Homo sapiens: one gene and its partners. The protein of the gene in region 1 purifies or fractionates together with the protein of each later gene. This does not show direct contact. Each region holds a gene or a part of one and is shown on either strand. Other genes may lie near its edges.

Region 1 (4,238 bases):
GGCACATATACACCATGGAATACTGTGCAGCCATAAAAAAGGATGATTTCATGTCCTTTGTAGGGACATGGATGAGGCTGGAAACCATCATTCTGAGCAAACTATCACAAGGACAGAAAGCCAAACACCGCATATTCTCACTCATAGTGGGAATTGAACAATGAGAACACATGGACACAGGGCAGGGAACATCACACACCAGGGCCTGTTGTGGGGTGGGGGTAGGGAGAAGGGATAGCACTAGGAGAAATACCTAATGTAAATGACGAGTTAACGGGTGCAACAAACCAACATGGCACATGTATACATATGTAACAAACCTGCACATTGTGCCCATGTACCCTAGAACTTAAAGTATAATAAAAAATAAAAATTAAAAAAATGGAGGCACACCATCAATAAAATAAACAAATAACTAAGTCAGTATAAAAGATGAGACGGTGTTAATGTTATTGAGAAAGATTTGAATATAGGATTTAACTTTCGGGGAGGGTAGCATATCAAACAGAATAATCAAGGAAGGCCTCCCTGAGAAGATGACATTGAGTCAAAACCTGACAGAAGTGAGGGACAAAGACATAAGCCCCTGAGAGAGAAGCCTTCTAGGAAGGTGACCAACAAGTGCAAACACATCGAAATGAAAACACGCCTGTGGTATTGTAGGAGGCATCTGCGTGGAGAGTGAGCGTATGGAGGCCAGATGGGGTGAGGGCAAAATGTGAAACCACTATTGGACTCTGGCTAAACTGTTGAGGCTATGGTCACTCTGTAGCATGGTGATTGTGTCTAAGGCAGTCAACAAAACCAGAGAGATGTGAGTGATAACATCCAACAGAAGTGGGCGCCAGCTTAAATAGGGACATATGAGCCATTCTACAGACTCAGATTTGCCTGATGAAAAGCCATTGGAAGGTTTAGAATAATGAAATGAGATGATTTCACATACTTTTTAAACTCAAATGGAGAACAGCCATAGGTAGGTATTTCCAGATAGCTAACGTCCGCCGGACCCCTGTAGTGATTCATTGTAACTTCATTAATTCTAATGTCACGTGGTGCCACAGAAACACAGTACAGGAGTACATTCCTCCCAGACACAGTACACTCCACTCAACTCCTTACATTTTAGCATGAATGAATAACGATTTTTAAAAGTCACCAAGTTGCCTTTTACCTATAGTTAAAAAAAAAAAACAACTTTTAGAAAAAAAGAACTGCTGTTCATTGAACAGTTACCATGTGCCAGACACTGTGCCCAGCATTTAGAAGAATTGTTTCATATAATCCTCTCCAAAATATTATGACATAGATAATATTCCACATTTCACAGATGAGGAAATCTGTGGGTTATGAAGGTTGAACGTATTTTCCAAAATAACATGTTCACATTCAGATTTGCTAGATCGGAAAGACTGTTCTTAATCAATGTTAGCCTTTAGTAATGAAAATTACTAAATTCATGTTAGTAATAGAATTAGGCTGGGTGCGGTGGCTCACGTATGTAATCCCAGCACTTTGGGAGGCTGAGGCGGGTGGATCACCTGAGGTTGGGAGTTCGAGACCAGCCTGACCAACATGGAGAAACCCGTCTCTACTAAAAAAAAAAAAAAAAAATACAAAATTAGCCGGGCATGGTGGCGCATGCCTGTAATCCCAGCTACTCGGGAGGTTGAGGCAAGAGAATTGCTTGAACCTGGGAGGCGGAGGTTGCGGTGAGCTGAGATTGCACCATGAGCCTGGGCAACAAGAGTGAAACTCCGTCTCAAAAATAAATAAATAAATAAATAGAATTAAGTTAACACTTAAAATAGTGACTATACAGAGCTTTCTCCACTAGACAAACAAACTTAGAGTTTCAAGGAAGAAAACGGTGGGGAAGAGAAGAGACAGAAAGGTGAAATAACGTACATATATAAAACTGGAAGGAAAGCCATGCCAGTGCTGTCTTGGGCTTATTGACTGCATGTAGACATTCTTGTATCACACCAGCTCTCATTAGAAGTTCTAGGCCAATATTACCAAGCTTGGTTTCCTCACATTCAGATATATCCCTGGGGCCTTGGAGTCTCCTCTAGGTATCTACTCCTCCCTGCCCCCCTCCACTGATACAGCATGTCCTAAATAGTACCAGACGATAATCCATATGTTACAACCCTGACCCCAGTGTATTATGGTTCCTCCCATAATCTTTGATCACATCTAACGCTACTAAATTCTATCTCCTCAGGGCCGTTTTAGAGAGAGCTGATTCACTTATATCAGTGTGAGCATCCTAATGTGAGAGATTATCAGGTCTGCAAACTGGACTGCACAACTTAATCCTCAAGGATACTGTACCATTAAAAGTAGAAATGGCTTCATGGCCGTTCTGAAACATATAAAGAGACTAAAGGATAATATTATAGTATATCTGATGCTAAATTTTTTAACATGTAACTCATAGCAAGTAATCACTTACATGGAATAATATTAGAAAAAATAAAAAGGAATAGACAATACAAATAAATCAATAGCTTCAGATAAATTAGAAAGCCTTTATTCATAAAAGCTCCTAGCTCTAATAATAGAATTTATAAAGTAATTTATAATTATAATATATCTAATATGTTAAAAACCAAATGAGAGCAGAGGGAGACTTACAATTAAATCAGAGATAGGGGAGCTATTTAGGCACAACTTCTAGCAGTGTAACTGAGCAATATACTACCAGAATAATTCCTTATCAGAGTTGATTTAATTTTGGAAGCTATATCCCAGTGTTTCTCCAAAATATTTTTATAAATCTCTCTTTATTTTTTTTCTATTAATTCATGTTTTCAAAGATACAGAGCAAAATACATTGATAAAGTTGCGATTAATTTATAACATTTCATCAATATAATCATAACTTTTGAAGAACATGGGAGATTCATTATATAGTAATTGATGTGATTACAGAGAAAAGCAGAGATATCTGACACTTGGTTTAGACTATGCGATGTTGTAGACATAAGCGCATGTTATGTTATACTAGTGATAATATTGAAAAAGGTATGCAGTCACAAAACCTTATCCCTTGATGGCTTGGGATCCCAAGTTGGCTTAGACCCAACTTGGAGATGATTGTTCTAGACAACAGCAAAGCAGAGGATTCCATGTCCAAGAATAGAATTTCTGTATACCACCAGCACCTAACATGGTACTTGGCACAAAATAGAGAGAGCCTCAAAAAATATCTTGACTAAATGAAGGTCTTCCTTCTTGGACAAAATGCTTTGACTTACTTCATACATTAAGACATGCACTTAATTTTTGTATAGCACTTGGCAATTTTCAAAACATCTTTCTATCTATCTCATTTGGTTCTTACACCAATCCTTTGTATACACACATGCATAAGCGTTCATATTTTATCAATGAGCAAACTCTGTTGGATCTGAGAACCCATCTTGCAGGACTCTACTTTTAGAATGATGGATAGAGGTTGTTCCCTGCCCCCATCCCCCAAGCTGAATCTAATTGTCCCTATGTTATCCCAAGTACATTTTTGTGCCAGATGTACTCCACTGAGTTAACCAAGGTTTTTTGTTTCGTTTGTTTGTTTGTTTTTGTGTTTTTCTTTTTAACTTTTCAGATGTCTGTCAGGGTTCACCTTGGCATCAATTTGCCCTGAAACTTAGCTGTGCTGGGATTATTCTCCTTGTCTTGGTTGTTACTGGGTTGAGTGTTTCAGGTAAGTGGGGCACCATCATCTGTTTCATAATACTTACTCTACTTCCATTACGTATCTTAGAGCATCTCTGTAGGGGTGGGTTGCCCCTACACACCTGTGGGTGTTTCTCGTAAGGTGGGACGAGAGATTTGGAAAAGAAAAAGACACAGAGACAAAGTATAGAGAAAGAAATAAGGGGACCCGGGGAACCAGCGTTCAGCATATGGAGGATCCCGCCAGCCTCTGAGTTCCCTTAGTATTTATTGATCATTTGTGGGTGTTTCTCGAGAGGGGGATGTGTCAGGGTCACAAGACAATTGTGGGGAGAGGGTCAGCAGACAAACACGTGAACAAAGGTCTTTGCATCATAGACAATGTAAAGGATTAAGTGCTGTGCTTTTAGATATGCATACACATAAACATCTCAATGCTTTACAAAGCAGTATTGCTGCCCGCAGGTCCTACCTCCAGCCCTAAGGCAGTTTTTCCCTATCTCAGTAGATGGAGCATACAATCGGGTTTTATACCGAGACATTCCATTGCCCAG
Region 2 (3,868 bases), on another chromosome or scaffold:
TCCTGCAATTTTGTATTGTTTGAACTGGAAGCCTGTTTACTTCGACAGTTATTATTCAAGGAAATAATTTGGAATTCTGATTATCTCTGCAAACATTTTATATGTTAATGTAGTTCTGTGAAATACATATGTGTTATGTGTGTTTGATAGCTCACCTCTAAAGTTTTGCATTGTTTTTTAAATTTCTTTTGAACTTTTGTAGGCATAGTCTTTTTCTCTCAGTGTTATGATTGTGGAAACCTGTCATCAGTTATTTCTTTTTTTGTTGTTTGTTTGTTTTTTTTTTTTAATGAGATGGAGTCTCACTCTGTCACCCAGGCTGGAGTGCAGTGGTGCGATCTCGGTCCACTGCAACCTCCATCTCCTGGGTTCAAGCAATTCTCCTGCCTCAGCCTCCTGAGTAGTTGGGATTACAGGCGCACACCACCACTCCGGCTAATTTTTGTATTTTTAGTAGAGGTGGGGTTTCACCATGTTGGTCAGGCTGGTTTTGAACTCCTGACCTCAGGTAATCCGCCCGCCTTGGCCTCCCAAAGTGCTAGGATTACAGACGTGAACCACTATGCCTGGCCCAGTGATGTCTTTAAATTTTATTTATTATTGTTATATTTTCTGTCACCCAGGCTGGAGTGTAGTCCTGTGATCTCAGCTCACTGCCACCTTTGCCTCCCAAGTTCAAGCAATTCTCCTGCCCCACCCTCTGGAGTAGATGGGATTACAAGCACCTGCCACCATGCCTGGCTAATTTTCGTATTTGTAGTAGAGATGGATTTTACCATGTTGGCTAGGCTGGCCTCGAACTCCTGACCTCAGGTGATCTACTCGCCTCCCAAAGTGCTGGGATTACAGGCGTGAGCCACTGCACCTGGCCAGTTATTTCTAGTGTTACCCAGAATTAAGAACAAATGAAATACAGTTTTAATTGTAGTTCTTTTTCAGAACCATGTAACAGTAACATCTTAATTTCATAATTTAATCATTTCTTTCCAATCCATGAATTTCATGTTATCATTTTGAACACTGGTTGCCAATTGCGTATGATTATTGTCCTTTACTTCTGACTGCTCAGATCTCAGATCTTGTGGCTCACATTTCTCTCTTTAGCTTATTCTGCTCTTTTTTTTTTTTTTTTTTTTGAGATGGAGTCTCTCTCTGTCGCCCAGGCTGGAGTGCAGTGGCGTTATCTCGGCTCACTGCAAGCTCTGCCTCCCGGGTTCATGCCATTCTCCTGCCTCAGCCTCCCAAGTAGCTGGGACTACAGGTGTCTGCCACCACGCCCGGCTGATTTTCTGTATTTTTAGTAGAGACGGGGTTTCACCATGTTAGCTAGGATGGTCTCGATCTCCTGACCTTGTGATCCTCCCACCTCGGCCTCCCAAAGTGCTGGGATTACAGGTGTGAGCTACTGCGCCCGGCCCCAGCTTATTCTGCTCTTAACTCTGGACTGTAAGCAGGTTTCAAACACACTAAACTTAAACTTATCATCTATCTGCATCCTGTCTTCCAGACCATTCTTTGTTTTTGTTTTGTTTTGTTTTGTTTGAGACGGAGTGTTGCTCTGTCACCAGGCTGGAGTGCAGTGGTGCAATCTCAGCTCACTGCCACCTCTGCCTCCCAGGTTCAAGTGATTCTCCTGCCTCAGCCTCCCAAGTAACTAGGACTATAGGCACCTGCCACCATGCCCGGCTAAGTTTTGTATTTTTAGTAGAGACGGAGTTTCACCAAATTAGCCAGGTTGGTCTTGAACTCCTGACCTTGTGGTCTGCCCACCTCAGCCTACTGAAGTGCTGGGATTACAGGTGTGAGCCACCATGCCTGACCTGGCTAACTTTTTTCTTAAGAGATGGGATATTACTGTATTGCCCAGTTTGGTCTCAAACTCCTAGATTTAACTGATCACTTCTCCTTGGCCTCCCAAAGTGTTGGAATTACAGGTGTGAGTCATTGCACCTGGCCTAAAACATTCTGATTTACTGTAACTGATAGTAACAGTAGTGTCTTTTTTTTTTTTTTTTTTTTTTTTTTGAGATGGAGTCTCGCTCTGTTGCCCAGGCTGGAGCACAGTGACCCGATCTCGGCTCACCGCAAGCTCCGTCTTCCGGGTTCATGCCATTCTTCTGCTTCAACCTCCCAAGTAGCTGGGACTACAGGCACCCGCCACCATGCCCGGCTAATTTTTTTGTATTTTTTGTAGAGACAGGGTTTCACCGTGTTAGCCAGGATGGTCTTGATCTCCTGACCTCGTGATCCTCCCACCTCGGCCTCCCAAAGTGCTAAGATTACAGGCGTAAGGCACCACGCCTGGCCTAACAGTAGTGTCTTAACCTAACATTTCCTCATGTTAGGGACCTACCTTTCAAAATGGTGCATTATTGGTGAGTTTTACCATCACAGGCCTTCAGTATTATGTGAAGCATCATAGTGCAAAAGTGAAGCAAGGAGCAGGATTGTTTGCAAATGACCTGGGTCTTCATTTGAGTTGCTTCAAGAAGGAGCCATCTGGTACTGTCCTTCCATTCCTTTCTCCCAACAGGATTATCTGCCTTCAAGTTTTGCTTATCTTTAAACTAGTGGCTTCCTTCTCACCACTGCAGGCATGTTGTTTTCTGTAGATGCTTGGTAGGTGGAGCTTCTAGCTGTCACCAAAATTTAGAATGCTTAGTGCCAGGCAGTCTGTTTGTTCCTCACTGATAAAGGTTCTTGTACTTTAAGGGATAACAAACAGGGTAATACTTAAAGATTAGCTTCATTAGAGGACATGTAGCCAAGCTTGGTGGTGTGCACCTGTGGTCCCAGCTATTCAGGAGGTTCAGGTAGGAGGATCACTTGAGCCTGGGAGGTCGAGGCTGCAGTGATCATGCCCCTGCACTCCAGCCTGGGCAACAAAGCAAGACCCTGTCTCAAATAAATAAGGAGAATTATAGTGAGTTATACTAAGCAGGCAAGTTTTGTTTTGTTTTACAAAGCAGCTTCTACCATAGTGAAAATAGCCCTTCCAGAGGACCGTGTCTGTTTATCCTGCACTGTAATAGGCTGTATCTAGAGTGTGTAGGTCATTGGAAGACCTGCACATCTCAAGAACTTAAATTTTCTTGGTCCCTCTTTTTTTGGCTGATGAAGTTTAGAACTTCAGAGTAGGAATATGAGCTGATAGTTGATTATATGACCAGAATGTTGACATTCACCAGAGGTCATCAAGAAGAGCGGGATTCTGATATGAGATGTGCCCAATCGTTGCCTACAAATCAACTGTGTTGTGATTCTGTGGAAACTTCCCTACTTACCCTGTTGATGTTAACTTGTAACTTTTTAAGCATTCTTCTGCCTTGGAGAAGGGGATCTTTAGTATACTTGGCATAAGTGAAAATCTAGGAAAGATGGTATCTGGGTTGTTTTCTGTATTCAAAGGACATTGCAGAATATATACCACTTAACGGAATAATTAGATGAGCTTTAGCAACTACTTATTAAAAGAGGTGAATATTTAGTGCATGGCACCCAAAGGAGGAAAGAACTGAAGAGATTTTCATTGTACAAAGAGCAGAAACAGAATCTGCTCAAAAGAACTGTAGAAGCCGGTTGAAAAAATGTTAAACAATGAGTAATTGTGTAAAAACTTGAGAGTATATGTTTGTCTTTGTGACACATGAAACGTTTCAATTTTAAGCTTACATGGGATTTTTAAGTGAGAGGAAGAAACAGATCCTGGTATACATAGGTGGGGAAACTTACAGATATGAAAACATTTTGATAAAAAGCTAACTTGATTGGTACAGAGCTAAAAAGGTGTGTAAAACAGGCTTTTTAAAAAACTTACATTTAGGTTATAATTTTTGCCTAGATTAATATTTGGGTCTCCTCTCCCCTA
Region 3 (3,868 bases), on another chromosome or scaffold:
AGGGATGGGAGAGGAGGCTGTCACTGCCAAGGCTGGTGCAGGGTTCACACCATGCCCTTTTGACATCTGGGGCTGGGTAATTCTTGTCCTCACTTCTTCAGAAGGGTACATGAGAGTCTATCAGAAGCACCACTCTATTCTCCAAGCCTGAAAGATGAGGGTAAATTCACTACCAGTTTCCCAGCTAACATGCATTAACGAAACACCACAGGGCTGAGCTATAACAAACATGAACTGTTCACCATTGTGGAAGCAATGATTTAACCCAACTACTGAAGAAGCACCTCTGCACCTTAAAATGGGGACAACAGTGCACAATACGAGCAAAGCCACACTCATTGGAACTGAATGGGAGAAAGGTAAATCTGAAGTGAAATAACCAAATTTAAATATTTAAGAAATTCATGGCCGGGCACGGTGGCTCACACCTGTAATCCCACACTTTGGGAGGCCGAGGCAGGTGATCACCTGAGGTCAGCAGTTTGAGACCAGCCTGGCCAACATGGTGAAACCCCATCTCTACTAAAAATACAAAAATTAGCCGAGCACGGCAGCGGGCGCCTGTAATCCCAGCTACTCGGGAGGCTGAGGCAGGAGATCACTTGAACCCAGGAGGCGGAGGTTGCAGTGAGCCAAAATTGCGCCACTGCACTCCAGCTGGGCCACAAGAGTGAAACTCCATCTCAAAAAAAAAAAAAAAGAAATTCACTAAAAAATTACACAAAGCCTCTGTGGATACTGATAGAAGTTCATATCCTAAAGACAAATGGATCTTTATGAATAGGCAAAAAGACAACAGAAATAAGATACTCAGATGAACTGATCTACAAAATACTTATTTCGAATTTTATTAGAGTGGATCTTATTAGACTGGATCAGATTCCTTGGGCTTGACAACCTTTTAAGTGAGCCAGGAGTTCTAAAATTACTACTGAGCTATTTAGCCAACTATAAAGATCAGCCTCAAATAGCGAAAGAAGTCCTCACAGCTCTACTGCACTTCCATATATGAGCCCAAGAGATTTTGTTTTTTTTTCAGGAAGTATCCAACTAGTTTGTAACAATGGAAAAACAGAAAACATGTAGGGAGTAATGGATTTACAAAATAGCACAATGGACTAAAAATTACGGTTAGTGTAGAACAGGATTTCTCAACCTTGCCACAACTGACATTTTATGCTGGATAATTCTTTGCTGTGGAGGTTATAGTATGTTTAGCTACATTTCTGGTATCTACCCACTAAATGCCAGCATCACCCTCCTAGTTATGACAACCAAAAATGTCTCCAGACATTGTCAAGTCTCCTGGGGGAAAAGCTCCCCATTGAGAACCACTGATGTAGAAATAAATGCTCTCATGGGGCATATCTTAAATTTTAAAAAGAGTTTTCCCCGCCACATAGAGAAAAAACTTTTAAATAAAGTCTAAGTAACCACAAGTGCTTGAGGAGTCTGTTCTCAAATAAATGCTCCCAATGTAACAAGTGAATTATTCTATCCATTTATAAAGGAAAATTTGTGTCTATCCGCTGTTACTAAGGCTGAGACTGCCCTGGATGGTCTTTAAAGGAAGCCCAAAATTAGCCAGAACGACTATCCACACTTTAAACTGAATAAAGCATATTTGTGGCTGGGCGTGGTGGCTCATGCCTGTCAATCTAAGCACTTTGGGAGGCTGAGGCAGGTGCATCACCTGAGGTCAGGAGTTCAAGACCAGCATGGCCAACATGATGAAACCCTGTCTCTACTAAAAATACAAAAATTAGCCAGGCGTGGTAGTGGGCAACTGTAATCCCAGCTACTCAGGAGGCTGAGGCACAAGAATCACTTGAACCCGGGAAGTGGAGGTTGCTGTGAGCTAAGATCTTGCCACTGCACTCCAGCCACGGCGACAGAGTGAGACTCCATCTTAAAAAAATAAAAATAAATAAAGCCATGTTTGCAGGCGGGGTGGAAGGTGAGTTAGGGAAGGATAGACTGGAATACAAAAGCTAAAGAAAAAATATCAGCATAAACTTTATAGATATACTATTCTGGTACTATTTATTACATTTTGTTCCAATACATTCATTTATCAAATCATCTCAAACCAAATTAGTTAAGAAACTAAAGTTGAGCCATACATACTTATTCTGTAACCATACTATGCTAGAATGTTTAATGTCCCCCTAAAAAGTCATGTCCATCCAGAACCTCAGAATGTGACTTTTACTGGAAATAGGGTCTCTGCAAGTTATTAGTTAAGATAAGGTCATACTGGATTAGGTGGGCCCTACCTAATCCAGTGACTTGCGTCCTTAGGAAAACATAATACACTGACACAGAGACAACTACAGGGGAGAAGCATGAATGTGAGGCAGAGACTGGAGTGGTATATCTACAAGTGAAGGAATGCCAAGGATTGCTGGCAACCACCACAAGCTAGAGAGAGGCAAGGAGGGATCTTCTACAGCCTTCAGAGAGAACACGACCCTGCTGACAACTTGATTTTGGACTTCCAGCCTCTAGAATTTTGAATGACTTAAGTTTCTGCTGTTCTAAGCCACCTTGTTTGTGGTACTTTGTTATGGCAGTTCTAAGAAGTTAATATGGGCATTGAGTAAATGAAGGGTATTTTGGGCATATAATTCCAATAGAGTGCTAACATATTGCAGTAATATACTGGTTCAATAACTGAAAAATTGTTGTAGTGCCTGTAGACTAATTTTTGTAAAGTCTTATTTCAAAAATGCCATTTTGTTATAAAGCACAGCGGGATACTAGCTCTGCAAAAATTAACACAATAAATTGGTATCACATAATCTTAACCTCACGACTTTATTGCATTTTCTTCTTTAAATAGCACAAAGAAGATTCAGGATGTTATACATTCAGTCCTCACTTAACATCACTGATAGGTTCTTGGAAACTGCCACTTTAAGTGAAATGGTGTATAACAAAACTATTTTTTTCTCATTAACATTGTAACGCTGAACGAAATGAGGGCCTACTGTATGTCATTTCGCTTAAAAGTGCAATTTCCTCTTTTTAAAAAATTTTTTGCTGTTCAAGAGTTTGATAACATATAGGCCGGGCTCACACCTGTAATCCCAACACTTTGGGGGGCCGAGGCAGTTGGATCATTTGAGGTCAGGAGTTCAAGACCAGCTTGGGCAACATGGAAACCCTGTCGCTACTGAAAATACAAAAATTAGCCGGGCGTGGTGGTGCACGTCTGTAGTCCCAGCTACTCAGGAGGCTGAGGCACAAGAATCGCTTTAACCCAGGAGGCAGAGGTTGCAGTAAGTCGAGATCACGCCACTGCACTCAAGCCTGGGTGAAGGAGTGACACTGTCTCAAAAAATACATATACATATAATATTATTTATATATATATATTTATGTTATATATAATATATATTTATATATATTATATATTACATATATATTACATATAATATATAATACATATTACATATATATTACATATAATATATAATACATATTACATATATTATATTATATATATATTTGTATGAGAGAGAGAGAGATAACATTGCAATTTCAAAGAAGCCATCAATGATGTTAAGTGAAGGTTCACTATATTTGTTGTCAAAAGGTATGTCTATTCTTTTTTCTCAGGCAAAAGCAACAGTATTCTGAAAAGGAAGTCACTTAATGAGAAATCGAGACAATAAGCTGTAAGAAGCATAGACATTCCTTCCAATGATACCCATTTCTTCCAAAATTACCAGTCATTTCTTACCTATATTATCCTTTTCTTTGCAAGAAATTGAATAGCAGCAAATTTCTCTATCCTGAATAGCAGACAGATTCCTATGAGAAGAATTAAAAGGATAAGTCTGTGCTTAGAACAGCTGTCATACTT
Region 4 (3,868 bases), on another chromosome or scaffold:
CTTCACCTGCTTCAGGGGAAGACTGGAAAGAGCAAGCCCAAGCCACATGAGTGAGGTCACCACACACCGACAGGGTGGAAAGAAACCCAAACCAAGGGCAAGCGAGGATGTCCCCGCACCAGCATTCAGAAGATATTCTGGGATCTAGGGCAAGGAGCTTATGGCAGAACAGGCTGCATTTTATAACTAAGTTGGTCACAACAAAGCAGAGGGGCTTTTCCCTTGGGGGTGGCCAGGGCTGGCACTGCAGAGGCCCAGGCAGTCACTCACCCCATGTCTGCAAGGAACTCCTGGAGCCGCTTCTGTCCATGCACAGACCACAGCTTGAACCTGGCTGCGGTATAGCTGGTGTTGCACAGGCTGTCATGGAGGGACCAGTGCTGGTAGAGCACCAGGCGGAGGCTGGGCCTGCAGTCAAGGAGCATGCAAGCACCCACTGGCCGCCCTGAGCACTCTCGTAACTCCAGCAGGTGGGCCACTCTGATGGCGGGGCCCTTTCTCACCAGGCCTGCCTGCAAAACCAGGTATCCCAAGAGTGACCTGGAGCCCTTTGACCTTCTTAGCTTAAGCTGACCCATACAGAGAGCCTGTGAAGTGACAGGCATAGACCACCATCCGTCTGACAGGCAGAGAATCTGGAGCACAGGGGTCTGCAAAGTCCAGGTGCTGTGGTCACATGGAGCAGTCATGGCCACACATGACGTAGGAGGCTGGGCGTCACCAGCTTGTCGTCCTGCACCTCCTGCTCCACCTAGCCCAGCCCTCCCTACAACCCATTCCTCCGGAGAGCCCTCCACTGGGACCCCATCCACGAAGCGCCCCCATCCTCAGCCCTTTTTTCGTTTTTTTTTTTTGAGACGGAGTCTCGCTCTGTCGCCCAGGCTGGAGTGCAGTGGCACGATCTCGGCTCGCTGCAAGCTCCACCTTCTGGATTCACGCCATTCTCCTGCCTCAGCCTCCCGAATAGCTGGGACTATAGGCACCCGCCACCATGCCTGGCTGATTTTTTGTATTTTTCGTAGAAACGAGGTTTCACCGTGTTAGCCAGGATGGTCTCGATCTCCTGACCTCATGATCCACTTGCCTTGGCCTCCCAGAGTGCTGGGATTACAGGCGTGAGCCACAGCGCCCGACCTCCTCAGCCCTTTTCTTAAACATATCCATCACTGCCCCTGGCACCGTGAGCGCAGTTGTGAGTGTGGACTGTCCCCCACGGTGGATTTCCCCTCTACAGGACGAGAGCCTGGTCCTGCCTGCTTCCTCGGCATGCTCAGTTCCCACCACTGCCCCTCCCAACTCCTGGGAACTCCCAGGCCTTCAGACCACCATGCTCCCTGCCCACACTCCAGCAGCTTCCTCAAGCCCCAGCATCCTCAGCTCCCTGACTCCCTCCCTCCTGTCTCAGTCACACACTCCCATGGTCCCTGGGTAAGTGAGCCCACCCTGCCACGCACATGATGGGACCAGCTCCAGTGCACAGCGGCTCCCCTCCCCAGGAGTTCAGCCAGCTCCACCCCGCTCCCCAGGCTCCGATGGCCACCTGACTACTGACGTGTCCACCCTCACTCTTCCTCCTTCCCAGCCATCACAGTGCAGAGACAGGGCAGCTCCGTCCCTGACATCATGCTATCTGACTGCTTACAGCCACTGCTGCAGTTTGGGCCAAGCCACTATTGTGTGGCCTTGGAAAGCAGTGACCATCTCCTTGCCCCCAACCTACCTCTACTGGGCAGCCAAGGGACCTTTTAAAAACCCTGACTCAAACTCTGGTCACTCCACAGCCTCCCGCTGCCCTTGGCTCACAAGGCTTGCTCTGGCCTCCTGACACCTGACCCCAGCCAGTCCCCCAGCCCCTCCTGTGCTCAGTACAGCAGCTGCCACACTGAGTGTGGCTGAGACTGTGTGAGATGTGGTCTCCCCATGGTCTTTTCTGAGCACTCCACCAATGTCCCATGTGCTTCTCAAAAGACACGTCACGCTGTGTGATTACATGGCAGCTGCCTTCTTTCCTGACTGCGTGAACCACTGCCCGCACTGCTACCATGTCCAGAGCCAGGCCCACAATAAGCACTTTACAGGGATGTGCTGGAGAAGGGTGATACTTCCAAACTCAGCTCTGGCATTTAGAAGCCAAAGCCACACAGATGAGCTGGGGTAGCACACCACAGCCCCTTCCCCCAAAACTTCCTGCCCCACCTGCTTTCCCTCCTGGGGATGTGGCCAGAACCCACAGAGGGTGACAAAGCAAACAAGGCCTGCTGAGCAGGGGTGCTGCCTGTGCCCCTCAGGCTGGGCCACAAGGATACTCATACTCAAAGGAGATCCGTGTGCAGTCCACGGAGAGTGTGTTCTCCTCATCCTCGTTCCGGTGGTTGTGGCGGGAAACGTGGCGCTGCAGGACACCAACATCAGTCACGTATTTCATTCTGGAAAAAAAAGTAGCACAAGCCTCGGCTGGTTCCCTCCAGCTCTTACCAGGCAGCCTAAGCCTAGGCTCCATTCCCGCTCAAGGCCTTCCTCAGGGGCCTGCTCACCACAGGAGCTGTTCCCATGCAGGGACTAAGGACATGCAGCCTGCATAGAAACCAAGCACCCAGGAAAACATGATTGGATGGAGCGGGGGGGTGTGGTCTCTAGCCTTGTCCACCTCCGGTCCTCATGGGTCTCACACCTCCTGAGAATGGGCACCGCAGAGGCCACAGCCCATACAGCCAAGATGACAGACTCCGTAAGTGACAGGGATCCACAGCAGAGTGGGTGAAATGTTCCCTATAAACTTTACAAAATTAATGAGGGCAGGGGGAGGGGAGAAATGAAAATGAACCCAGCTCGCAGCACATCAGCATCAGTCACTAGGTCGGCGTGCTCTCTGACTGCTTCCTCGTAGCTGCTTGGTGTCTCATTGCCTCAGAAGCATGTAGACCCTGTCACAAGATTGTAGTTCCCCTAACTGCTCCGTAGATCACAACTTGAACCTTAGGAAATGCTGTTTTCCCTTTGAGATATTCCTTTGGGTCCTGTATACTGATGGAGCTACTGACTGAGCTGCTCCGAAGGACCCCACGAGGAGCTGACTAAACCAAGAGTGCAGTTTGTACACCCTGATGATTACATCCCCCTTGCCCCACCAATCAACTCTCCCAATTTTCCAGCCCCTCACCCTCCAGTCCCCTTAAAAGCCCCAGCCCAGGCCGGGCACAGTGGCTCATGCCTGTAATCCCAGCACTTTGGGAGGCCAAGGTGGGCAGATCACCTGAGGGCAGGAATTTGAGACCAGCCTGACCAACATGAAGAAACCCCGTCTCTATTACAAATACAAAATTAGCCGGGCGTGTTGCTGCATACTGGTAATCCCAGCTACTTGGGAGGGTGAGGCAGGAGAATCACTTGAATCTGGGAGGCGGAGGTTGCGATGAGCCGAGACAGCGCCATTGCACTGCAGCCTGGGCAACAAGAGCAAAACTCCATCTCAAAAACAAACAAACAAACAAAACCAAAAAAGCCCAGCCCAGAACTCCTCAAGGAGATGGATTTGAGGATCTCCTCCCATCTTCTCACTCGGTGCCCTGCAATCATGAAACTCTTCCTCTGCTGCAAACTCTGCTGTCTCAGTGTAACAAGTCTGTTACTGCACAGCAGGCATACAAACCTGCTGGTCCTATAACACATTATGGTGAGTCTAGCCTCGAGCCCCTTGTGGGCATTTGCTTGCCTGCGGCTTGGTGCGCCTTCGCTGTTCAGTGGGAAGGACCCAGAGACAAGCCCAAAGCCCAAGCGGCCACTGGGTTCCATTGAACTATATGGGCTGCCACCCGTGCCCTGCCTGTTGACAGGGCAATGTCAACCTTTGGTGCATAGACTGCTCGCA

The links. The genes of interacting proteins can lie anywhere in the genome.
Region 2: the proteins of KLRB1 (region 1) and ARL5B purify together in Homo sapiens (affinity purification with mass spectrometry; one large-scale study listed by BioGRID and IntAct). This does not show direct contact.
Region 3: the proteins of KLRB1 (region 1) and ARL8B purify together in Homo sapiens (affinity purification with mass spectrometry; one large-scale study listed by BioGRID and IntAct). This does not show direct contact.
Region 4: the proteins of KLRB1 (region 1) and CDC45 purify together in Homo sapiens (affinity purification with mass spectrometry; one large-scale study listed by BioGRID and IntAct). This does not show direct contact.

The regions. Positions count from the first base shown.
Region 1 is NC_000012.12:9,600,975-9,605,212, reverse strand, and holds part of KLRB1 (killer cell lectin-like receptor subfamily B member 1), read left to right. Parts: intron 1-3,613; coding exon 3,614-3,712; intron 3,713-4,238.
Region 2 is NC_000010.11:18,662,431-18,666,298, forward strand, and holds part of ARL5B (ADP-ribosylation factor-like protein 5B), read left to right. Parts: intron 1-3,868.
Region 3 is NC_000003.12:5,174,292-5,178,159, reverse strand, and holds part of ARL8B (ADP-ribosylation factor-like protein 8B), read right to left. Parts: intron 3,817-3,868; coding exon 3,746-3,816; intron 1-3,745. UniProt on the Homo sapiens protein: Small GTPase which cycles between active GTP-bound and inactive GDP-bound states.
Region 4 is NC_000022.11:19,503,920-19,507,787, reverse strand, and holds part of CDC45 (cell division control protein 45 homolog), read right to left. Parts: intron 2,427-3,868; coding exon 2,307-2,426; intron 403-2,306; coding exon 271-402; intron 23-270; coding exon 1-22. UniProt on the Homo sapiens protein: Required for initiation of chromosomal DNA replication. Core component of CDC45-MCM-GINS (CMG) helicase, the molecular machine that unwinds template DNA during replication, and around which the replisome is built.